Linked DNA regions of Homo sapiens. The protein of the gene in region 5 interacts with the protein of the main gene of each other region in a biochemical or structural test. Each region holds a gene or a part of one and is shown on either strand. Other genes may lie near its edges. The genes, in order: C1orf87, RALGPS1, PPIE, UBR2, TLK1, CSAG1 and NPHP1.

Evidence for each region.
Region 1: the proteins of TLK1 (region 5) and C1orf87 form a complex in vitro, tested with the Homo sapiens proteins (one large-scale study listed by BioGRID).
Region 2: the proteins of TLK1 (region 5) and RALGPS1 form a complex in vitro, tested with the Homo sapiens proteins (one large-scale study listed by BioGRID).
Region 3: the proteins of TLK1 (region 5) and PPIE form a complex in vitro, tested with the Homo sapiens proteins (one large-scale study listed by BioGRID).
Region 4: the proteins of TLK1 (region 5) and UBR2 form a complex in vitro, tested with the Homo sapiens proteins (one large-scale study listed by BioGRID).
Region 6: the proteins of TLK1 (region 5) and CSAG1 form a complex in vitro, tested with the Homo sapiens proteins (one large-scale study listed by BioGRID).
Region 7: the proteins of TLK1 (region 5) and NPHP1 form a complex in vitro, tested with the Homo sapiens proteins (one large-scale study listed by BioGRID).

The regions. Positions count from the first base shown.
Region 1 is NC_000001.11:60,070,971-60,075,019, reverse strand, and holds the start of C1orf87 (uncharacterized protein C1orf87), read left to right. Parts: upstream 1-1,249; 5' UTR 1,250-1,330; intron 1,331-2,349; 5' UTR 2,350-2,376; coding exon 2,377-2,483; intron 2,484-4,049.
Region 2 is NC_000009.12:127,190,782-127,194,281, forward strand, and holds part of RALGPS1 (ras-specific guanine nucleotide-releasing factor RalGPS1), read left to right. Parts: intron 1-3,500.
Region 3 is NC_000001.11:39,752,382-39,755,881, forward strand, and holds part of PPIE (peptidyl-prolyl cis-trans isomerase E), read left to right. Parts: intron 1-528; coding exon 529-671; intron 672-905; coding exon 906-974; 3' UTR 975-3,500. UniProt on the Homo sapiens protein: Involved in pre-mRNA splicing as component of the spliceosome. Combines RNA-binding and PPIase activities.
Region 4 is NC_000006.12:42,658,029-42,661,528, forward strand, and holds part of UBR2 (E3 ubiquitin-protein ligase UBR2), read left to right. Parts: coding exon 1-105; intron 106-211; coding exon 212-292; intron 293-617; coding exon 618-796; intron 797-1,627; coding exon 1,628-1,827; intron 1,828-3,500. UniProt on the Homo sapiens protein: E3 ubiquitin-protein ligase which is a component of the N-end rule pathway.
Region 5 is NC_000002.12:170,993,609-170,996,893, forward strand, and holds part of TLK1 (serine/threonine-protein kinase tousled-like 1), read right to left. Parts: intron 3,153-3,285; coding exon 3,045-3,152; intron 349-3,044; coding exon 172-348; 3' UTR 1-171. UniProt on the Homo sapiens protein: Rapidly and transiently inhibited by phosphorylation following the generation of DNA double-stranded breaks during S-phase. This is cell cycle checkpoint and ATM-pathway dependent and appears to regulate processes involved in chromatin assembly.
Region 6 is NC_000023.11:152,726,984-152,730,721, forward strand, and holds the end of CSAG1 (chondrosarcoma-associated gene 1 protein), read right to left. Parts: intron 1,242-3,738; coding exon 1,091-1,241; coding exon of another isoform or gene 1,040-1,090; intron 881-1,039; coding exon 811-880; 3' UTR 501-810; downstream 1-500. UniProt on the Homo sapiens protein: May play an important role in maintaining centrosome integrity during mitosis.
Region 7 is NC_000002.12:110,167,014-110,170,513, reverse strand, and holds part of NPHP1 (nephrocystin-1), read left to right. Parts: intron 1-515; coding exon 516-708; intron 709-1,960; coding exon 1,961-2,062; intron 2,063-3,500. UniProt on the Homo sapiens protein: Together with BCAR1 it may play a role in the control of epithelial cell polarity. Involved in the organization of apical junctions in kidney cells together with NPHP4 and RPGRIP1L/NPHP8. Does not seem to be strictly required for ciliogenesis.

The DNA.
Region 1 (4,049 bases), on a different chromosome or scaffold from region 5:
GTGAGCCCCTGGAGGGGAGCTGAGTGTGCTGTCCACCTCTGGCTGCATGTGCCAGTGGGTGATATATTCACCTGTAAAGCACAGTACAGCTAGAGGTTAGGAGACAGGGGAACAGATGCTGGAGCTGCTGCTGCCTATGTTGATGCAAATAACAATACCGTTTGGGAATCAATCTAAAGTGTCTTTGCCTGCATCAGCTGAAGTTTCTTTTAGCATAATAACAACTGTCTGGAAATGTAGGATATGCAGATCTATATTCTAATCTTAGCTCTGTACTTGCTTTTGCAGGATTTGGAGTAGTTTATCAATACCCCAACTTGTTTCTTTTCTCTTTAAAATAAAGTAAAACTATTTTGTTTATAACTATTAACTTGTGAGGTGAGAGTTATCCAGCTTGTCATAGGGATCTGGCATAGAGACAGTACTCAACGTTATTATTATCAATCTATAATATTCTGGTTTTTTTGTTTCTTTGTTTGTTTGATATGGAGTCTCGCTCTGTTGCCCAGGCTGGAGTGCAGTAGTACCATCCTGGCTCACTGCAAGGTCCACCTCCCAAGTTCAAGCAATTCTCCTGCCTCAGCCTCCTGAGTAGCTGGGATTACAGGCGCGCACCACCACGACCGGCTAATTTTTTGTATTTTTAGTAGAGACGGGGTTTCACCATGTTAGCCAGGATGGTCTCAATCTCCTGACCTCGTGATCTGCCCACCTCGGCCTAACAAAGTGCTGGGATTACAGGGGTGAACCACTGAGCCCGGCCGATATTCTTATTTAATTTAGTCACCAAATCGCAGTTAGGACAGTGTTATTATTTTGCCCCGTTTCACAGATGAGGAAACAATCTCAGGGAAAAGAAGGGATTTACTCAAGCCATACAGTGGAGACGTCTGGATTTGAACCTACTGTGTTGGAATCTCAACTATGTGCAAACTCACAAAGGGAAATGAAGCCTTCGGAGGAAGGGCGGGACAAGGGTGACCACACAGGTGAGCGAGATGGGCTTCTAGAAGGACGCCCGCATATCTCTGAGGAACAGAGAAGGCACAGATCAAAAACACCTAGGCTCTTCACCCGTTGGCAGCCAGAGCCTGGGTCCATTGCCTAGGCAGTGGAGAAAAACCTGGTCCCCGCCCAGAAACAGCCTTCAGCGTCCTTAGCGACCAGGGCGGAACAGGCGCCGCCCGCGATGCGGGCCCTGTGATTGGCCGGATTCCTGGGCTCGGTCCCCACGCCCCGTCCCGTCCCCGGGTCTGAGAGTGTCAGCTTCCTGGGGAGAAGCACGGACCGCGCACCTCTGAGCTGCCAGGGTGGGGACGCTGCCCTAGCGGTAAGCCCCCCGACTCTGTTCTCTCCGGGCAATCAGGGCCGACACGCAGCTGCTGGGCAGGGAGGGGATTTGAGGATCACGAGTTCCGGGTCTGGAAGATTCCAGACAGGTGCAAAGAGGCTGCAGGTCCCCGGGATGAGGGGCTGCCCTAGCACAGGTCTTTAGTATTGGACTTTTGGGAAGAACCCTGGCCTAGACATCAGACCCAAGTACTGGAAACAGTCCCGTCCTTCATTCCTCTGTGACCCTTGTCAAATAACACACCCTCTCTGGGCCTTAGTTTTCCAATCTGTGAAGGAGCCTTTGGAGTAGAATGATTTCTAAAGGCCTTTCAGCCTCTGGGTGGTTCTAAAAGGGAGTGTTCAGCTGTGGCCAGATTTACTGAACTTCTGATTTTCCCTTGGCATCACTCTGTTTAAACACCTTGTGCAGGAGTTCAATTTCAGATTCATTGTATTGTTGTAGAAAGAGATCAGTGATAACAACAAAAGTCTGTCTGTCTTGTGTACAGTCTCCCTTCAGATGCATTATCTCCTTGGATTCACCCTCAAGTCCCTGAGAACAGACCTAGAATTACCCTGATCTCATAAATGGGGAAACTAAACATCAGAACTGAATATGGATTCTTCATATGTCCCACTAATGCCCTTGTTTCTGCTCTGACCTCACTGGAATTCCATCCTATGTCTTGTAGTACAGGAAGGTAGAGTCACCTAATGATTCAGTAGATCTGCTGTACAGACCTCTTAGGTGAGATTCCCAAGTCGGCTAATTACTGGTGATGTGATGTGATGTGAGTAAGTCATATAGCTACATTTTGCTTGTTTCCTCAACAGTAAAACAAAAATGATAATAGTAGTTAAAAATATCTTTCTCATGCCTTTGTTAGGAGTGTTAAGTGAGGTAATATAGGTGAAACACTTTGTCCTGCTATTATTATTGCTTGTTGTTATTGGCAAGGATGATGCAGTTCCCTAATGGAAAATCAAGAGGAACAATTTACTTATTTTCACCCCTAGGGATCTGAAGGGATTTTGAAAGGAATCATGTCTTCAGCCTGGAAGACTCCCCGTGGATCAGATGCAATGCCTGAGATCATGGTGAAAATCATTGGAAGTAAACACTTTCAATACCTCGTGGAGAAGCCAAAGATGTAAGTCCATATTTGAAAAATATCTATGTTGCTTGGATGATAATGAAGTTTTATTGTTTTGTTTTCACCCAGAAATTTAAACTTAAAAAATGCCATCCATGGAAAACGAAGTCATTAAGATGCAACAGTAGAGGTAAAATCGTGTTGATAACTTCCATGTGCACTGTTTTCCTGATATTTTTCATCTTTATAATTCCCCATACTCCTTAATTACTTGGGCTGATTTTCCAAATAGATGGGAAATATGAGCATTGCGACATTTATAAATATTAATGGAGCACTGCTGCCTTTTCTCATCGGGCTTGTAATCTACCACATGTACTAATTTTGGGGAGAGTGGGGGAGGTTTAATAGTCAATTTGTTGTGAATTACAGGAGTAGGATTAATACAGAATCATAAATTGTAAGGTTTTCACTTACTCCTGTTTGTATTTGATACTCCTCTAAGCTTGGGCTTCTCAGATCATGGCTAAGATCTCTTTCTTCTATTCCAAACCCATCAGAGTCACATTTAAGAGATGACACTCCTGTATTTCTAATATTCACCAGATGTTTCAGCACAGAACAGTATGACTAGCTCTTTCTTACAGAGTTTCAGTGGCTCAAAAAAGGAGGGAAGGTACTAGATCTGTCTTTCATATAGTAGGCGTTCCATAAGTAATAGCTAGTCAAAAATTACTTTTCCTTCCTAAGATTATTTCCTTAGCTCTATCTTCTATTTCAGAAACTCATAGACTGAACAAATATACAAAGATATGGTATTGTTGAACATAGGTGCAAGAAGAAATTTTTGCTAAACCTAGCTGTCATCAGAATCACTGGGAGAGACCTCAAAAATACAGATTCAGGAACCAGCTCAAGGTCTGCTGAATCAAAATCTCTGAATGTAGGTCACCAAGACTGCTGTTATGAAGTACAGGCTTTAATAAGGCTTTAGAAAGGCACATTAGTTCTACTTCCCTACTATCAGTATTGTAAGGTCTAGAGGGATTCCAAAGTGACTGCTATAATCAGTTAGTAATGTCTGCCACTGCACAGGAACTGAGGTTTGCAGCACGTGATTCATACATTTGGGATCCCTACAGTGCTGAGAGGTGTGAAATTGAATCTTAGGTCTGATTCTTTCTTGCCTTTTTGACATTGGGAAAATGAATTAACATCTTTGGCCTTAGATTCTACATATATGAAGTGGGGATAAAACAACACCTATCTAGTAATAGGGTTATTGTGAGGATTAAATGAGAAAAAGTATGCAAAGCACCTTTCCAGTGTCTATTATAAATAACATGCTTAGTAAATAATCCTGCTATTATTATAGAAGTCTTTCTATAGATATAAAAAATGTAACAAAAAATCGAACCTCTTTCTCTGAAATGTTTGATGTCCCTTTTATATTCTATGCCTAGGACACAGTTTATGTCTGTTTTGTAGATGAGGAAACTAAGACACTGTGATATGGTAAGCGATTATTTTGAGATATGTCAAATCCCTGTCACTGTCAAGAAAAGTAAATAGAATTAGTTTGGACACCTGGCTCAGATCTCCTACCTGGAAAACTATATTATT
Region 2 (3,500 bases), on a different chromosome or scaffold from region 5:
ATAAAAGGCAGGGCATCTTCCTTTATTCAGCACTGCTCATTGCTTTCCAAATATTTCACCTTCATATAAGCCCCAAACTAGAGTTCCTGTTCCTCCCCTTCTGCCAATGCAATACATTGTCAGGCTAAATTTTTTATTTTTTTACCATCTGTTGTAATAAAAAGATATCTCCTTTTACTCTCATTTGCATTTCCATTATTACCAGTGGGGTTAAGCGTCTTTCCTTATTGTTACTGGCCATTTGGAGACTCTGTTCCTTGAATTTGCCTTTCATATCTTTTGCTTGTTCTCTCTGTGTGGTTTGTCCTTTCTTACAGATATTTGAAGTTCTCTGTGTATCTGAAAGCTAATCCTGTGTTGGTTTAGGGGTGACACATACCTTCTCCCAGACTGTGATTCGCCTTTTAACACTGATTTTGATGTCGTTTTTGGTCGGTTGTTTTGGTACAGACATTTAAATGTTGTCAAATTTATTCATCTCTTCCTTTAGGATTTGTGTTTTTTCTTTCTTCCCTTTCCCCAAGATTATAATGATTGTCTCCTATTTTTTTCCCAGTAGTTTTGCTTTTCACATTTGTGACATTAATCCACTTGCTTAACATAAGGCAGGACTCTAATTTTGTCTTTTTCCACATGGAACCCAGTGGTTTTGCCCCTCATCCTGAAAAGTTCCTCCTTTCCCCACTGACTGGTAATGCCGCCACCATCAGGAAGCATGTCGGGCTCTCACTTTGTATTCACTGAACTGTGTCTGCATCCATGCCCAATACCACACTCTTTGAATACTACTGCTTTAGGTTTTGTTCTGCCATCCAGTAGGGCAAGTCTTGCACTGTTTTTCTTCAGAATAGTCTTGGCTACTCTGTCTTTTTTCTTTTCCATCAGGTTTTTTTGTTTTTGTTTTTTGGGTTTTTTTTTGTTTTTTTTTTTTTTTGAGATGGAGTCTCACTCTGTCACCCAGGCTGGAGTGCAGTGGCACGATCTCGGCTCACTGCAAGCTCTGCCTCCCAGGTTCACGCCATTCTCCTGCCTCAGCCTCCCGAGTAGCTGGGACTACAGGCACCTGCCACCACGCCCGGCTAATTTTTTGTATTTTTAGTAGAGACGGGGTTTCACCGTGTCAGCCAGGATGGTCTTGATCTCCTGACCTTGTGATCTGCCCGCCTCGGCCTCTCAAAGTGCTGGGATTAGAGGCGTGAGCCACGGCGCCCGGCCTCCACTGGGATTTTAAGAGTGGCTTAAATGGCCAGGTCAGGAAGAACTTTGAACACCATGTCATGGATGATTTCAAGCAAGGCGGTGACATGGTTAGCTTCACGTTTTTCAAATACTTATGAAGCTGTGCTTGGGTTAGATTTTAGAAGATCAGACTGGAGGCAGGAAGACAATAAAATGTGGGGGCCCAGACCAGTCAGTGACAAGAGAGGTGGGCAGGGAGGGGCTGTGCAGAGTCTGGAGGCCATGATGACTGTGCAGCAAGTGAGGAGGGAAAGGGAGGAGAGAAGAGGCAAGTTGCCGTGTGGCAGGAGCCGAGGGTGGGCTCCCATTCCAGGCCAGGCGACTGGGCAACCCACAGTGCCTCCAGCCAAGGCTGGAAACAGGAGAAGGAGTTGCAGGCTTAGCCTTAGCTGTGCTGCACTTGATGCATCTTAGGAAAGGGCAGATGGAGGGATGGTGCCAAGAGGTGGATGTATGGGTCTCAGGCTCAGAAAAGAGGTCTGGGCCAGGCCTGGTGGCACCCTCCTGTGATCCCAGCTACTCAGGAGGCTGAGCTGACAGGGTTGCTTGAGCTGGTGAGCCGGGGAGGTCGAGGCTGCAGCGAGCCATCATAGCATCACTGCGCTCCATCCTGGGTGACAGGGCCAGACCCTGTGTCAAAAAAAAAGAAAAGAAAAGAGGACTGTAGTCAAGATTTAAGAGTCATCAGCTATCCAATCAAAGAAAAAACAGGAGCCAAAGAGGGAGTCCTGTGTGGACAACTCCAGCATGAGGGGTGTTAGAGGAAGAGAAGGATCTCACGGAAGAGGTGGTGACAGTGATTGAAGAGGCACAGGGAGAAGCAGGAGAGTGTGGCATAGTGCCTGCCAAGGAAGGAGGGCATTTTGAGAAGGAGTGACCCCGAGCACCAGGTGCCAAGGGCTCTGGGAGGAGGCTGACGAGCCTTCATTGATTTGGCAAGAAGGAGGTCAGTGGATGTGTCATTAGGTACAGAAGTCAGAGCTGAGTGACTGGAGGAGCACAGACCTCCATTTGCTGGGAAAAGATCCAGTGAAGGACCTTGGCTTACAGGGAAAGAGAGACTAGAGCTTGCCTGTAGGCTGGGGGAAGGAGCCAGAGAGAGAAGGGGAAAGTGAGGCAGGGAATTATCAGAGGAGACGGGTAGGACCTGAGAGAAGAGAAGGGCCCCGGCCTGGTGGGAAGGCCAGTGTGAATGGAGGTGTGCATGGCCACTGCAAGGGTGGCTGTGAGAGAGATCCCACCTGACATCCAGTGTTGTCACTGAAGTAAAGAGTGGCAGCATTTGAAAGGGGTGGGGTCTTGGAGTTGCCCGGGGGCACTGAGGAAAGAAGTGACATTTTGGAATGTTATTGAGAATAAGAAAGTTGGCTAAGGCTTAATAAAGGGATTGGTGGGGGCGGATGAAGGAGAAGGTGCCTGTGCAGAGTGGGGTTGGGAAGGAGGGGGGACAGCAGAGAAGACAACTCATGGGAAGTGAGCACTCAGCCAGCACAGGAGCTCAGAACTGGAGGTGATGCAAGTGCCCTTGCCTCCTGAATCTGCCAAAATGCCAGATGGGCCAGCCTTCCCACAGTATACGGGCTGGGGGTGTGGGTCATTATTTTGGACATTAAGATGACCCAAGCAGGCTGGAGGACATGGGAACCTGTAGGCCACTGGTGGGTCTGTAGGGCCTTGTGTTGGAGGACCTGGAGGTCTGGGTGGGCTTGGGCCTTATGGGTCCCCCCAAGAAAGTTCTCCAGCCATGGCCAGGCAGCCACCCCCTTGATCTGCTCTGCATTTGGTGTTCTCTGCAGGAAGCAGCTGAGCCCCTTTGTAGAGTCACTCTTTCCCACCCCCAGGGCCTGACCCAGATAGCCAGAGCTAGGCGAGCCTCTGGAGTCACCTCCCTTAAAGACCTCCCTTCCCAAGCCACAGAAACTAAAGAGTGCCACAGTGGCCAGGGTCACATTCCTCCAGACATGGCTGAAGACATGGCCAGCATGAAGGATTTGGCCTCAGTGTCTGTGTATTGTGCACAGTGAGGTTTGCGCCCCTAACTCCCTGGCTCTGGTGACCTGTTAGCCCCATGACTGGGTTGAGAAGGACATGGTAATAATTACCATAATAAATTAAGTATGAGGGCTAACTATGAAAGTCTGCGTACATTACCTCATGGACTTCTGACCACCTGCAAGGTGAGTTGAATTATTCCCACTTTTCAGATGAGGAAACTGCAGCTCAAGGGATATGTTCAGTAACCTATCCATGGTCCCAGGTAG
Region 3 (3,500 bases), on a different chromosome or scaffold from region 5:
CTGTTTCAATAAATGACTCCACCATCCACTTAGCCGCTTGATCAGAAACTTAGGAGTCATTGTGGACACACACACACATACATACATGTACACATACACACACAGACACACACATATACATGTACATTCTCTTACGTGACAAATGTCCATGTTACCAGGCCTCACTGTGTCATAGCTGTCATTTTGAATGGCTCTTTTCCACTGATTGTGAGCTCCACCAGAGCTTGGACTATGTTCTGCTCATCAGTGTTCCCAGGGCTTAACAGGGACCTGGTTGTCAAGTAGACACTTAATTGTTAAATAAATGAATTAATGAAAGAACAGACCAGTATAAAGTGATTGAAACACCTCACTTACCATTTCACTGACTATTAACTGAATCCAAGATAAGGTGGCCGCATTTGCATGTGATCTGTGCATCCCCGAGTCTGAGCCTGACTGGCTGAAGGGCTGTCAACAGCCTGCACAGACGTCCTTTAAGGGCTGGTAGCCAGGGTTCGGGGAGCTGATGGTTGTTCTCTCCCTCAGGTCTACTATCCATGGCCAACTCTGGCCCAAACACCAATGGCTCTCAGTTCTTCCTGACATGTGACAAGACAGACTGGCTGGATGGCAAGCATGTGGTGTTTGGAGAGGTCACCGAAGGCCTAGATGTCTTGCGGCAAATTGAGGTATGTGGCCAGGAATGGGCCTCCTCCTTACCCAGGCCCTAGGAGCACAGCCCTGTGTGAGGGCTGGAGAGTCTCTGTGGCCTGAGAGAGATGGCCAGGGGCTGTGTCCAGCGGGAGGGGCTGCTGCTGCCCAGGTTCCGGGGTGGAAGTGGGCAAATGGGCAGGCAGGGGTTGGTATCCCTAAACCACTGTTAGTCTCCGGCCTTACTCCCTCACTTCTATTCTGCCACAAAGGCCCAGGGCAGCAAGGACGGGAAGCCAAAGCAGAAGGTGATCATCGCCGACTGTGGGGAGTACGTGTGAGGCGGCACTCTCTCTGCTTCCCCCTCCGCTCTTGACCCTGCATATCCAGGAAGGAACTGCCAGCCTCAGAGGAGGCAGCACCGAGGGTGCCTGTTTGAAGCAAGCAGCATTTGGGATATGTGCCCTTCCTCAGGGTCTGCTTGGAGCAGCTCCTCTGCAGGCACAGCCTGGACTATTCCCAGGCACAGCTGTGGGCCCAGGAGCCAGCTCAGGTGCTCCCCTCCACCATGGGCAGGCTGTGCAAAAAGCCACTGGCTTTTCTCAGCATTTGCTGCTGGGCCTCTCCTGGGACTACCAGTGTGGCTCTTACGTGTTTTCTTTGCTAAAATAAACCCTAGTTCTTATATTGCTCTTCCTGCTAGTTCTTGGGAGTTGTCAGAGATTGTGTCTGTGGCTAAGCTGGACCTCTGAGGCAGGCTGGTGAGTGGGGAGAGCAGAGCATCTTTTTCACAGCTTTCATTTCCTCCCTTGGGCCGATCCCCTTAGATGTCAGGTGATGTATCTTCACACCAGGCATCGATGTCAGGGCAACGGAAATTAAAGACTGGAAAGCTCCGGTCTTCTGCTGCCTCTGCTCCTAAACCCAGCTGCCGGCCTTACAGCCAGCAAGTGTACTCTCAGTGGTTCATTTGTTTATTTGTTCACTTTCACCCTACAGATTTTAAAAAATGAAATTTTTATAACTCAAAGTGCCTTCTCTGTGCCAAGTACTATGCCTATTTGTCAGGAGACAGGAAGCCAACAAACTACATGTGCCTAATCCAGCCCACTGCCTGTTTTTATGAATCAGGTTTTATTGGAACACAGCCACGTCCATTTATTTACATATTGTCCATGGTGGTTTCTTACTGCAGTGGCAGAGGTGCGTAAGGGGCTATAGACACAATACAGGCTATGGTCCCTGTATTAGGGTTTTCTAGAGAAGCAGAACCAATAGGGTGTGTATATATGTAGAAAGAGATTTATTTTAAGGAACTGGCTCAAGCAGTGGTAGGAGCTGGCAAGTCTGCAATCTGCACAACAGACCAGCAGGCTGGAGACTCAGGAAAAAAACTGATGTTGCAGTTCAGCTCTGAGGCAGTTTGGAAGCAGAATTCTTCCTCCAGTGATCTCAGTCTTTTTTCTCTTAAGAATTTCAACTGATTGGATGAGGCCTACCCACATTATGGAGGGTAATCTGCTTTACTCTCTACTGACTTAAATATTAATCCATCTAAAAAATAGGCCAGGCATGGTGGCTCATGCCTATAATTCCACCACTATTGGGAGGCTGAGGCAGGAGGATCACTTGAGCCCAGGAGTTCAAGACCAGCCTGGGCAATGTAGAGACCCCCATCTCTAGGGGGAGAAAAAAAAGCCAGGTATGGTAGTGCACACCTATAGTCCCAGCTACTCAGAAGGCTGAGGTGGGAGGATCGCTTGAACCTGGGAGGTTGAGGCTGCAGTCAGCCATGGTCATGCCACTGTACTCCAGCCTGGGTGACAAGAGGGAGACCCTGTCTTGAAAAAAAGAAACCATCATCACAGCAACATCTAGACTAGTGTTTGACTAAAAACTGGATACCATGGCCTAGCCAAATTGACACACAAAATAGACCATCACAGTCCCAAGGCCTAAAATACTTACTATCTGAGCCTTTACAAAACAGGATTGCCAGCCACTGAAGAGAACAAATGGTCCCACCCCCTGCTGAGCTCACAGTCTGGCTCTCCTGTGTGCAGCCACTTCTTGGAGCTGGCTTCTCTCCACTCCCCCTCCAGATGCTGGTCAGCCAGGCGGTTATAAAGAATCTCATCTGCTGAAGGCTTTTAGCAGGGACTGAGTCCTGTAGCTGTTGGACACCTCCTGTGGGTTGGGTCACTCAGACCATTCAGAATCCACTGAGCTGAGCTTTTGCATCTTGGATTGAGATCTGGATGAGCCAGGAGGCAGGAGAGGCTAGGTGGTCCTCATGACCCTAGGATAGCTCTTGCTGAGGGATGGTGGCATTCTGCCCTACCTCTGGCTCCCATGTGCCGACTGGACTTTGTGAGCTCCAGCTGCTACAGTTGACTGAGTTCAGGCTCCATGTAGCTGGGATATACTACATGGTTACCCCTCACCCCTATGGAGCTTCCAAAAGAGACCCTCCCTCAAAGCACAGCCCCTTCTCTGAGTGCAAATAATGGCCATCAGAGGTCAGTCACAGGTGTTAGGCAGGCATCTATGAAGCTGGGGATGATAGCACTGACTTCAGTGCTTGGACGAGAACCAGGAGAGAGTGTGTAGAAAAAGCACAGCCAGCCTCCCATAAAAGGACAGACTCCTGTGACAACCTTGTCACTCTGTTCCTCCCTGATACTCTGGGGAGGTGGAGGCCAGTGGGCAGTTCTGAAAGCTCAGCAGGTTTGGAGCCATTGGGTGTGGACTCCTCTCCCAGTGTTCCTCCTGGGTGTTCACAGATGTTATTGAATGCACACTGGAACCCTGCACAGGTAAACTGAGGCTTTATTGGCGTGACTGCCAAAGGTCACACAGGGTGGTTT
Region 4 (3,500 bases), on a different chromosome or scaffold from region 5:
GGTGAAGCGCCAAAAAATTCTCCTAGCATACTAGCTATGCTGGAAACACTACAAAATGCTCCCTACCTAGAAGTCCACAAAGACATGATTCGGTGGATATTGAAGGTAAAATTTCCACATTCCTCTGCTTTTTGTGAGAAATATTGAATATTTGTTATGTGTACATTGTGATCATATTTCATACAGGATACTGATACTTTTTTTTTTGTAGACTTTTAATGCTGTTAAAAAGATGAGGGAGAGTTCACCTACCAGTCCCGTGGCAGAGACAGAAGGAACCATAATGGAAGAGGTATAAACAGTAAAAAGTGTGATAATACTAAAAAATTACAGCAAGTTCAGTATGAACAAAATAAATTTATCTACATTAAGTTGCCAGTTACTCACAACATTTAAATTCCAAGAAATATGCCACTATTTATCTCTATTTGTTGTAGCAATTTTTTGTCTGCTTTTTTTCTTTAAAACAAGTCAGTTTAAGAGTCTTTTCTCTTATTTAAATAAGTGAGATTATAGAATAGTTTTTTAATTGGTATTTACAGTGAAGATATTTCTGCTTTGGAAAAAAATGTGCGTTTTAGCATCTAATTGTCTAATTGAATGGAGCATAATTTCAGAGTTCAAGGGACAAAGACAAAGCTGAGAGGAAGAGAAAAGCAGAGATTGCCAGACTGCGCAGAGAAAAGATCATGGCTCAGATGTCTGAAATGCAGCGGCATTTTATTGATGAAAACAAAGAACTCTTTCAGCAGACATTAGAACTGGATGCCTCAACCTCTGCTGTTCTTGATCATAGGTAAAAAAAAAAAAAAAAAAAATTAATGTCTTGACGAGTTTTTCCCAACTAGGGGCAGTGTTGCGTTTTCTCCTTGTAAGTATACTTTTAATCCTAAAGTAATTTAGTAGAATTCATAGGTAAATTTTGTGACCTCCATTTAGAAGATTTAATCTTAGAAGTCTCTGAATGTAGGTATGGTAAGTCCTGTGTACACCTGGTAGGGTATTTTCTGCAGAAGACCTTGGACATTCATGAAAGAATGAGTACACTACACTCAGTTACCTAGAGCGTATGACATCTGTGTTGAAGATTAGATTACTGTGAGGATTAAAGGAGATGGTTTTGATACATACCAAAGACTTGACAATCCAAGTTATCAAAACCATGTGTTAAATATATACATTCCTGGCTGTGCGTGGTGGCTCACGCCTGTAATCCCAGCACTTCGGGAGGCCAAGGCGGGCGGATCACAAGGTGAGGAGTTCGAGACCAGCCTGACCAACATGGTGAAACCCCATCTCTACTAAAAATACAAAAAAAAAAAATTAGCCGGGTGTGGTGGTGCATGCCTATAATCCCAGCTACTCAGGAGGCTGAGTCAGGAGAATTGCTTGAACCTGCGAGGCGGAGGTTGCAGTGAGCCAAGATTGTGCCACTCACCCCAGCCTGGGTGACAGAGCAAGACTCTGTCTCAAAAAATAAATAAATATATATACACACACACACACACACACACACACACACACACACACACACTACACACACACACACATACCTGTAGTCTGCTATTTTGTGATTATATAGAAAGTTTTGGGATCATTAATTATATTCATAACCTTTGTATTGCAGCCCTGTGGCTTCAGATATGACACTTACAGCACTGGGCCCCGCACAAACTCAGGTTCCTGAACAAAGACAATTCGTTACATGTATATTGTGTCAAGAGGAGCAAGAAGTTAAAGTGGAAAGCAGGGCAATGGTCTTGGCAGCATTTGTTCAGAGATCAACTGTATTATCAAAAAACAGAAGTAAATTTATTCAAGATCCAGGTAAGTCATAGCTAGATCCTCATCTTCCCTTTTAATAACAACTGCCAGTTAATGTGGTTGGTGATACGTTGAGATTTTTTAAACCTAAAAATAACTCCATGGACTTGGATGGTATCTTTGGCAGGTAACTTAGGCAGGAATTCCCCACTTGGCAGATGTGGAACCACTCCAGAAAGTTGCACCTGAATCACATAGCTGATAAATAGCAGGGATTCAAAGAAAAGCTTTTCTTTGTGATGTAACATTACATACTTTGGCATTTCACAGTCTTTTCCATCCTTCAGTACACTTGCAAAGTCCTGGTCATTTGTTGACACACTGAAATAATAATTGTTTTGTCTTATTGATAGAGCCTGAGTGGAATCTCCTGAGAACAGTGATGGAGAGTTACCTATGTAAGAGGCAATCCTTGAGCCAAATTGTTTTAGAATAGTAATACCACCACAGATCGGGTTCCCCAGAAAGCAGATTCTTGGGATACAGATTACCGTGCAGGACAGTTGAGGGCCCTCTTTCAGCAACTGAGGGAGTAAAGCAGGGAGATCCAGTCCGCACATGATTTTGTCCACCACAGACACATTTATTTCTCTGCTTGTAGGTTGTGCTCTGTGTGCGTGTGCTTCAGCGATACCCAGTAAACTTCTTGAGAGTAGGAACTGTGTCTTGGGAATTCCCAGAGCACTGCTTTAACCAGTGCCTTTCACACTGCAGCGTGAAAGGAGGTTTGAGAGCCCACTTTTAGAGTTGCCTTCTCTCTGTAAAGAAAGTCTTTGCATCCTACTTATGAAAGGTTGGTCTGCTTCATCTTTAAAAATGGTCATTTAGGCTGGGTATGGTGGCTCATGCCTGTAATCCCAGCACTTTGGGAGGCCGAGGCAGGTGGATCACCTGAGGTCAGGAGTTCAAGACCAGCCTGGCCAACATGGCGAAACCCCATCTCTACTAATAGTACAAAAAAAAAACTAGCCAAATTTGGTGGCACGCGCCTGTAGTCCCAGCTACTCAAGAGGCTGAGGCATGAGAATTGCTTGAACCTGGGAGGCAGAGGTTGCAGTGAGCCGAGATTGCACCACTGCCCTCCAGCCTGGGCAACGGAGCGAGACCCTGTGTGGTTTTTTTGTTTGTTTGTTTGTTTGTTTTTAAAAAAAAAAAAAAAGGCCAGGCGCAGTGGCTCATGTCTGTAATCCCAGCACTCTGGGAGGCCAAGGCAGGCAGATCACAAGGTCAGGAGATCAAGACCATCCTGGCTAACACAGTGAAACCCCATCTCTACTAAAAAATACAAAAAAAAATTAGCCAGGCGTGGTGGCAGTTACCTGCTACTCGGGAGGCTGAGGCAGGAGAATGGCGTGAACCCAGGAAGCAGAGCTTGCAGTGAGTCGAGATCGCGCCACTGCACTCCAATCTGGGCGACAAAGCGAGACTGTCTTAAAAAAAAAAAAGATATTTAAACTAGGTGCTTTATAAATTTCATTCCAGGCCAAAGACAAAGTTGCTAATTTTATTTAACTTATTACTTCTGAAGAAAAAGCATTAGCTGGCTATAAGTGGATTTTCTTAATGCTTTGACATTTGCACTGTTCTAGTGTTAAAGCAAATTAAAACTATTAAAGCAAATTAAAAGTAGTTCTTTCTAGAGTGTTAGGAAATTTCGAAGATTATACTAATTTATA
Region 5 (3,285 bases):
CATACAAATGACACTATGAGGAACTTCAGTTCACAAACAGTTCTTAACCACGTCTTGTGTAAAAAAAAAAAAAAAAAAAAAAGAAAAAGAAAACAAACACTCAAATGCTCTCAAACTTAAGTGTGCATCTGGAAGCAAATTCAAAGATATCATGCCAATCTTGGAGGAAAGTCAGTAAGTAATTATGCTTGAAGAAGGGGGTGTAGGGGATGCTGTCAGCCCAGCCATGTGTAGGTTTCCTGAAGAATTTGATCTTCTCATGTGTGGGAGAAGGTATGGGTCATTTGCCAGCTGGTGCACATCAAATCGATCTTCTTTTCGATATGCCAAACAGCGTCTTATAAATGCCTCAAAAAGAGAAAGGAAATGTTAGCAATTAATGATCTTTTTCCCTTCTAAATATCAATCAACTGAATCAGCAGAAGGATGGACACATTTAAGACATAAGTAGATCTCATTTTATTGGAAGTTCAAACCTTAAAAAAAAAATTCTGTAGCTAGAAAATTCTCACTCCAAATGCAACTCACTGCTTGAAGCCCCTGCAGTGGTTCACTTTACAGTCTAAATTACTACTGCAACCATTTGAACTTATACTGGAAAGTTGTTTCTGCTTACGAAATTCTGAAGACTTTTTTCTAGCATTTTTCTTCTGCTAAACAGTCCTCCCACCCTCATCCCATTTTGTTATCACTTCAGTTTAGCAAAGGGTAAGATGCCATTTTCAACCATTATTTTTTTTTCCTACTGACATAAAGACTTTCTTTAGATGAAGAGATCACTGAAGGGACACTTTCATTAGGGACATTGTTTCCCAGGTTAACCCTATGCATCATTACACTCCTGGAAAAGCTAAATAAACAGAATATAATCACTATTTTTTTTTTCTCAAACCAATTTTACTCAGTTTTTCTTTGAGAATAGCCTCTTACAAAAAAAAAAAAAACCTTTCCTGAAGTGTAACACATTTTTAGAAATGCACACAAATCGTTAAGTGCATAGCACAAAGTAAATACATCTATGTAACTGGCAACCAGATCAAGAAAAAGAACCTCTGAATCCCCCTCATGCCCAGTTCCAGGCACTGGCTCTGTCCCCAGTCGAACCTGGGTTAACCTTTATCTTGACTTCTAAAACCATAGTTGAGTTTTGATTGTTTGAATTTTATATAAATAGAATTATAAATTATGTTCTCCTTTGCCAGGCCTCTTTCACCCAATATTAAATTTTGAGGTTCATCCTTTTTTGGGGGGGGAGGGAACAGATAAAATATTCTCAGGAGGTAACTGGTAATTGTTTCCCTTTCTTAATGCTGACACTAGAAATTAATACATACCATTAAACAGAAGTATAATCACATTAAAAGGTAACTATTTTGCACTTTCTTTGCTTTGAAATTCATTAGAAGTATATTTTTCTCTAAAAATATACCTAGCTATTCTCATTTTACCATAGCTTACTGTTTATTGGAAGTCAATCTGATCCCTTAGAGGACTTATCTTTTTTATCTTTAACAAAGTTTCAGAGATCACTTTGAAAAATGATTAAGAGGGAAAAAAACATCAAGACTGATATGTTAGAGTTTGAGGAGTGGAAAGGCTATCAATAGCAAGGTTAAGGTTAAGTCTGCAACAAATAATGTACTTAAAGATGCCCACACCAAGTCAGGGAAAGTACTTGGCAAAGGTATCTTCTGTAGGGATACAGAATATAGAGATATTATATATTACATTAAAATATTAAAATTTATATCATATAATTGTATCATATTAATATTATATCCCCCCAACAACCCCTTAACCCTTCCTGGATTCCAGATCTCTAAAAGGTGACTGTGGTGCCTATTAAGAGCCTAAGGAGAGAACCAGGAATGGCTAAATGAGACTTTGCCTTTGGCAACTCCACTCCTCCTGGTCTTTTCAGTCAGTATTAAACAAACAGATCATGAATCAACTAAATTCATTTAATTTCTGTTCTCAATGAGGCTACAGACAGAAAATAAGACAAGATTTAGATGTCAGCACAGTTAAAATATTTTTAAAGGAGTCATATTTATCTTACAAAAATAATTCATTTTGCTTTCAAATAAGAATATTTATCTCTTTTGTTTTTTTGAGAATGGGTCTTGCTATGTCGCCCATGCAGGAGTGCAGTGGTGCGATCTCACCTCACTGCAACCTCTACCTCTTGGTCTCAAGCGATCCTCCCAGCTCAGCATCCTGAGAAGCTGAAACTAAAGGCACGGGCCCCTACACCGGGCTAATTTTTGTATTTTTAGTAGAGATGGGGTTTCACCATGTTGCCCAGGCTGGTCTCGAACTCCTGGGCTCAGGCAATCTGCCTGCCTGGGCCTCCCAAATTGCTGGATTACAGGTGTGAGCCACCGCGCATGGCCTATTTGGTTTTTTTGAGACAGGGTGTCACTCTGTCCCCCAGGTTTGAGTGCAGCGGTATCGTCATGGCTCACTGCAGCCTTGACCTCCCTGAGCTCAGGTGATCCTCCCACCTCAGACTCCCAAGCAACTGAGACTCTAGATGTGTGCCACCACGCCTGGCTAATTTTTGTATTTTTAGTAGAGACCGGGTTTCACCATGTTGGTCAGGCTGGTCTCAAACTCCTGACCTCAGATGATCTGCCCGCCTTGGCCTCCCAAAGTGCTGGGATTACAGGTGTGAGCCACCACGCCCAGCCTTATTATTACTTTTAATATTTCTTATATACTTATATATCTCAGTATTAACATAAGCAGATAAAATAATACATAAAAGGTAATGATGAGCCCAGATCTTGTGATTTTTCCCTAATTTTCAAAGTAGCAGCTGATGAACATAAACAATCAGAGACCATAGCTTAAAAGATAAAAACTATAGCAACCAGAGGCTGATGCAACTCCTTCTCTGAAAGTAAATCACCAGCCCCTGCTGGACAGATCCCCTGCAGCAGCGAGTCTTGTGACTTTACTTACTGGAAAGTACTTACCTTGTTGTCAGCACAACTGATGAAAGAAAAGTTACTTCACAAAACTCATTTACAAAAATTTAATACCTTGGCTTCACTGCTTACAACCGGTTTTACAGGGAACTGGACTTCTGTGGCTTTTAATATTGTATTTTCTTGAAGAATGTCTTGTTGAGATTGATTGTGACCAAATGGCTTAAAAAAAAAATTAAATGTTGAGATACTTTTCTCACAAAATATTTAAACACAGATATCATTTCTGTTTAAGCGAATTCCCAAAACCGAAAATCCAAATATCTTGTGTTCTAAAATCTTCCTCAGTTATTTG
Region 6 (3,738 bases), on a different chromosome or scaffold from region 5:
CAAGTGTGCATGAAATATTTCCCAGGATAGATGGTATTCTGGGCCATCAAACAAAGCTTACAAATTGAAAAAAAAAATAGAAATAATAAAAAGCCTCTTCTTAGACCATAATATAATTAAATTCAAAACCAAACACCAAGATATCTGAAAAATGCCCAAATATTGGAAATTTTAAAATATGCTCCTAAATAACCTATGGGTCAAAGAGGGAGTCTCAGGAGAATTTTAAAAATACATTAAGTTGAATGAAAATAAAAATATACATACAAAAATGGGATTCAGCTAAAGTGTTTCCTTGAGGGAAATGTATAGCATATTTTATGTTTATATTAGAAAATGAAATCTAAAATCAATAACCAAAACTTTCACCCTAGGAATCCAAAGAACAAAGAGCAATTTGAATTTAAAGAAATTGTAGAGGATCCCCCCATCCCTTCCCACACTCCCACCTCTTCCCCTTAAGCCCTACCCCCAACCTTTGAGACACACAGACACACACATCATTTTACAACATGTTCATTTTATTTCCATCACCATGGGGCATACCCTTTGGGGTGTAAAACGTACTCTACACCCTGTTGGCTATTTATCTGGGGTTAGACTTCTGGAGACTTTTCAGATAGACTTGAAGTCTCTGGCCTTGCCTGGGAATTACTGGCTGCCCAAGGAAGCACTGGAGAAGGCGGTGGTCTCCTTGCCCTTGTGGTCCTGCTATGGCGCATTTTGATTGAGTTCCTCGTTCGGCTGGTCAGAGTGGCTGGATAGTGTTGGCCCACTCCATTCCTCAGGTTTTTTTGAAGCGGTGGTCTTTTAGGGAGAGCCTTTTGTTCCTGGAACTTCCTTGACGGGTCCCTTTTCCCTTCTGGGTTGTCTTGGGAACCTGGAAAGCCAACAGGGAGATCACAGGAGGGCACTGGTTTGGGGAAGAGGATGGAGGAGGGGTGAGAACAGGGGTTTCATAGAGAAATGGTACAGGCTGGGGTGGGGGTTGTGCCAGGGGAGGACAGGGTAGGAGTCAGAGCTTGGGTGGGCCATTCACTTTGATAGGGCTTCTGGGCCAGGGATGAGAGGATGCTTTCCCCTTCCTCGCCTCTTTGGTGTTGATGGGTGGTTGTTGGAAAATGGGCTGGAGGCTCGTGGTTTCCTGGACATCTTCACCAGACCAGTGTCTCTGTACAGTCTACTCCAGTCCACCTGGTCTCCCCGAGCTTCCCCCAGGACAGTGAAGGCAGGCCAGCAGGCTAGAAACTCACACGACATTATTATGTTAGTCTTGTGGTAGAATTCCTTTTCCAAGAAACCTTGGTCTTTTAACACCTTCAACTAATTGGATGAGGCCTATCCACATTATGGAAGTTAAATTGCTTTACTTAAAGTCAACTGATTGTAAATGTTGATCACATCTACAAAATACCTTCACAGCAACATCTAGACTACTGTTTGACCACACAGCTGAGCAGTATAGCCTAGACAAGTTGACACATAATACTAGCCACTGCAAATATCTTGCACCGTACAAAAATGTGACTCAAAATGAACCGCAATCTTAAATGCCAAAATTACGGGCTTTTTTTCTAGGAGGAAACAAAAAAAAATTGTGTTACCTGAGGTTATGTACTAGTCAGCTCAGGCTAGAATAACAAAATGTCATTGACTGAGTAGCTGGAACAACAGAAATTTATCTTTTTTCACAGTTTTGAAGTCTGGAAGTCCCAGATCAAGGACTGGCGGGGTTGGCTTCTGGTGATGGCCTTATTCCTGGCTTGTAGATGGCCCTTTCTCAATATGTCCATTCTTGGCCCTTCCTCTGTGCATGTGCAGAGAGCGCGCGAGAGAGACAGCGAGCTCATGCAGGCACAAAAATGCTATCTTCTGTCTCTTCTCCCTTCTTATAACCACACTAATTCTATGGGATCAAGGCCCCACCCTTATGACCTCTTTTAACATTAATCACTTCCTTAGAAGCCTCATCACCAAATACAGACACCCTGGGGCTGAGGGCTTCAAAATATGAATTTGGTGGAGGACATAAGCATTAGCAAAGAATAGACACATAGGTTAATAAAACAGAATAGAGCTCAGAAATAGACCTGCACACATATAGTCAGGTGATTCACAACAAAGGCAATAATGGTGAAAGTACAGGTTTTCCAACAAAAGGTGTCGGAACAATTAGACACCTATACACAAATTATAATAACCTGGACATATCCTTACATATTCCATGAAAACTAACTCAAGATACATCATAGGTCTAATGAAAAATGCAAAAACAATACAACCTCTATAAGAAAACATGAGAGAAATCCACATAACTTTGAGTTTGGAGATGAGTTTTTAAATTCAACACCAAAAGCATGATCAAGGAAAGAAAAATTTGCCAAGTTGATTTTATTAAAATAAACATCATGTGCTCTTCAAAAGACAATGTTAAGAGAATGAAAACAGAAGCCACAGACTAGCAGAAAACATCTGCGGTACACATATGTGATAAAGAACTTGTCTCTACAATATATGCGAATTCTTAAAGCTCAGCGATAGAAAAAAATGAAAATAGTCAAAGATCTGAACACACACTACACAAAAGAAGATACACACATGGCAAATAAGCATAATAAATGTACTAAGCGTGTTTTGTCATTAGATAATTGTGTACTAAAATGAGATACCACTACACACCTATTAGTATGTCCAAAATCCATAAAAAAGCAAAACAAAGCAAACAAAACCAAGACCAATTGCCAGGGAAGATGTGGAGCAACAGAAACTCTCATTCATAGCTCGTGGAAATGCAACATGGCACAGCCACTTTGGAAGACAATTTGGCGTTTTCTTAAAAAACGGAACATAGACTTAGCGTAAGATTCAGCAGCCATACTCAATCAATTTACCCAATTGATTTGAAAACTTATGTCTACATAAAAATTTGTATATGAATGTATACAATAGCTTATTTCACAATCACCAAAAATAGCAGCATCCAAAATGTATTTCATTTGGTGAATGGATTATATATATATATATATACACACATACACACACACACGCATTAAAATATGGTACACCCAATGATACTACTACTCCTCAATGAAAAGGAATAAGTTACAAGCTGCACAAAGTTTTACATGACTCTTCAGTTCATTATGCTAAACGAGTCTAAAGAAACGAGTCTAGAAAGAAACGAGTCTAAAAAGGCTACATAGTATACGAGTCTATTTATATGACATTCAGGAAAAGGCAAAATTATAAAGATGAAAAACCTATCAGTGGCAGCCAAGGGGGTTATCTGACAAGCACAGGGGATTTATCAGGGCAGTGAAACTAGTATGGTAATACTGTAATGGTGGTTCCGTGCTTGCTTTCATCTGAATATTTGTGTTCCCACAAACTTCATCTGCTGAAATACCAAGGTGATGGTATTAGGTAGAAGGTGGGGTATTTGGAGAATGACTAGTTCATGAGAGCAGAGACCTCATGAATGGGATCAGTGTTTTTATAAAATAGTCCCCACAGAGATCCCTTGCCCCTTCCTCCATGCGAGGACATAGGGAAAAGGCAGGTGTCTAGGAACTAGGGAGCAGGACTCCACCAGACATGAAATCTGCCAGCACCTTGATCTTGGACTTTCCAACCTCCAGAATGTGAGAAATAAAGTTGTGTTGTTTATAAGCCACCTAGTCTACACTATTTTTGTTATGGAAGCCCAAACGGACTAAGACAATGGCAAGAGGCATTTGT
Region 7 (3,500 bases), about 61 Mb from region 5:
AAAGCTTGCTATGGGCAAGCACTGTTCTAAACACTTTGCAAGTAGTAACTCATCTTAATCCTCATGACAATCTTAGAAGGCAGGTTCTATTATTATCTCCACTTTACCAATGAGAAATGGAGAGCTTAAAAGAAGCCTACTCAAGGTCACCCAGCAAAGAGGGAATAGAGCCAGAATTTAAATTTAGCAGAGCCTATGCTCTAAGTACTTCATAATAATGCTTCAACAGCATTTTCTGAATGGATGAATCCAAGACTTGAATTCGGAGTCTCCTGGCCTCAAGTCCAGTGATGCTCTGCCATCTCACATACATGACTCAGCTCCCTCTCCGCCTCAGTCTCTCCAGGCACACGGTCTTAGCTAGATGGTAGAAACTGTTCTTTGTATTTTCCCTTATTTCTTTTATTTGCCAGCTCCAAATATGGGATATTCATGTATATGTAGAAGTTACACTCATAGCTGGTCTGTTCTTGTATATTATTTCAAGTAGTCCTACTCAGAAACACTTTTTGTAGAGTTGGGGCACCTACTGAAGAAGAGGAAGAAAGTGAAAGTGAAGATAGTGAAGACAGTGGTGGGGAGGAAGAAGATGCAGAGGAGGAAGAGGAAGAGAAAGAGGAAAATGAATCTCACAAATGGTCAACCGGTGAAGAATACATCGCTGTTGGAGATTTTACTGCTCAGCAAGTTGGAGATCTTACATTTAAGGTAGGTAGAATAAGACTGAAACCTAACCTAAGGGTCGATGTCCATACCTAACAGAATAAGAAAACTCTGCCTGTACACCTGTATTACAGATTCTTAAAATGCAGTTTTATAACAATCTATTTAAATAAGTAATAATTACAATTTACAAGCAGTAGTAATATGAGATTGTGTTACTAAAGTTACCTCTTCTAAAGATTTTTGAAAGTAGCTTTAATGTTGAGAATTCCTAATTTAGGGGTAAAATTTTATAATTTGTTATTGAATGTCATGTATAAATTCATTCAAGTGAGTTAGGCAATGTCCATAGGTGGAGGTAGAAGGGAGCACTTCCTGCCATTTTGTAGCAGTCTTTCCTGTTAGCTTAGATATGAGAGGGGCTTACATCCATGCTTGGTTGGCCTGGGCATAAATAAGTGGCAGGTGGGACAGAACAATAAAGTTGTGATTTTTAAAGTTGTGATTTTGAGCCTGTGTTTTCTGCTAGAGAAATGAGCCAAAGAAATTTAAGTGAATATATGAATTTTAGTTCTTATATTAAACTTCAAAGTTTAGTAACTGATTAATAATAAAATACATAAGAATATTATGCAAATAATTATATGGTTTGATTTATAGATTTTTTTTTCAAATTCTCCTGGAAAATGGTATCAATATTAGACAATAATGTATATTTTAATTAAGTGTTTGCTTTTGTAGTGTCCTTAGTGGTGGAAATGCTTTTGTCTTCAAAGATGAATTTTATTTTTATAAATGAGTGAGTGTTATTCAAAACATATCTGGTGAATTAAGTGGGTAATTATATTCAGTAAATACTATTTTTGCTCAAAAATAGGGTTTAACTTTAATGGAATTGATATTCTTTGGGAATTTATATGCTGCTTCTGAAAGACACTTTTCCAGAGATATTAAAACATTCAAAAATATTTTACGCAGTAATTGAATTTTTGGAATAAGTATGGGGCCTTAAAAATGATTGTGAAAAATGGTTCCCATTTGCATAAATGGCTCAAGTGTATGTTAGGTAACCAAAAGGAATGATTCATTAAACTATGTCACATTTATGGTTTTAGGTGAGTTAGGCAGAATACATAGGGGTCGGGTGATAGGGAAGCTTTTGATAAACCTTAGGATAAATATTGGATTAAAAAAAGATTTTGCCTTTTTTTCAGCACATATTTTGAATCATTGGTATTGACATATACTCATGATTATTGAATTTTATTTAAAATGGTTTACTTTGTTTTGCTTTAAGAAAGGGGAAATTCTCCTTGTAATTGAAAAAAAACCTGATGGTTGGTGGATAGCTAAGGATGCCAAAGGAAATGAAGGTCTTGTTCCCAGAACCTACCTAGAGGTTAGTCTTGGTTTATGCCTTCCTTTTCTAAGACTTTTTTTTTTTTCGCTTTTAATAAAACATTTAGCTGTGTTCTTTTGTCAGTTGACTAGTGAATGACTTGAGATATAGAATTTGCTTTAATTTTGGAGGGACAGGACCTGGGAAAAACATTGTGTATTAATGGTCCTGGGGACCTGTGAAGTGCTCTTACGCATGTGAGCCCTGGAACGTGATCTCACAATGAGGGGATGCTTTGTGGATTAATGCTGATCATAACAAATAATAGGTGTCTATTGTTTATTGTAAAACATAACTGCAGTTAACTTTGTGTTAACTTCCACAAATATGTGATCCCCTTACTAAAATGTGAACATACTATACATGTGTGTTTGTAGCTTGTATTTTCTTATTTCATAAAATAACATGGTCATTTTCTGTGCCAAGATATATAGATTTCTGTCTGGATCAGCACTGTCCAGTAGAACTATGATGCAAACCACACATGTAATTTAAATTTTTCAGTAGCCACACTGAGATATCTTTTTGCTGATGCCACTTCTGACACCAAGTATGTGGTTTTTCTCTGACACCAAATATGTGTTATTACATCAGTTCTTCTACACCAACCGGTGTCAGCAATTCAATTCGATTCTGATGCTAATGCCTGGAGCTAGCACAGACCCCCACAGGTTAAAGGCTCAGTCCCACAAGATTGCTGCTCACTTCCGTTGCCAGTCACAAGTCCCAAGAGCCACCCATACTTCTGACTGACTGGCTATACATTCACGAGTTCCCATACCATCACCTCAGGGGTTCAGTAATTTACTAGAATGATTCACAGAACTCAGGAAAACACTTTCCTTGCATTTACCAGTTTATTATAAAGGATGCAACTCAGGAACAGCCATAGAGTGAGGTATTGGTTGGGGGTGGCTGGCATGCACTCTCTGGGCCTTCCACCTTCCCAGCACTTCGCTGTGTTCACCATCCTGGAAGTTCCTGGAACCCCATCATTTAGGGGTTTTTCTGAAGGTTTCATTAGCCATGTTTAACTAAATCATTAGCAATTGGTGATTAACTCAGTCTCCAGCTCCTCTCCCCTCTTTGAAGGTTGGAGGGTGGGGCTGAAAGTTCTAACCTCTAATACCTGGGTTGGTTTTTCTGGTAACCTGTCCCCTTCCTGAAGCTGTTTAGGTGCCCACCTAGAATTACCTCATTAACATAAACTCAGGAGTGACTGAAGGGGACTCTTGATGAGTAAGAAAACATACTCCTATCATTCAGGAAATTCCAAGGGTTTCAGGAGCTCTGTGCCAGGAATCAGTGACAAAGAACAAATACATGTTTTTCATTACACACATTTTTAAAAAGTAAAAAGAAACAGGTAGAATTATTTTTAATAATATATTTTATATTATCCAGTATATCAAAAATACTATTTTGACATATCAATATT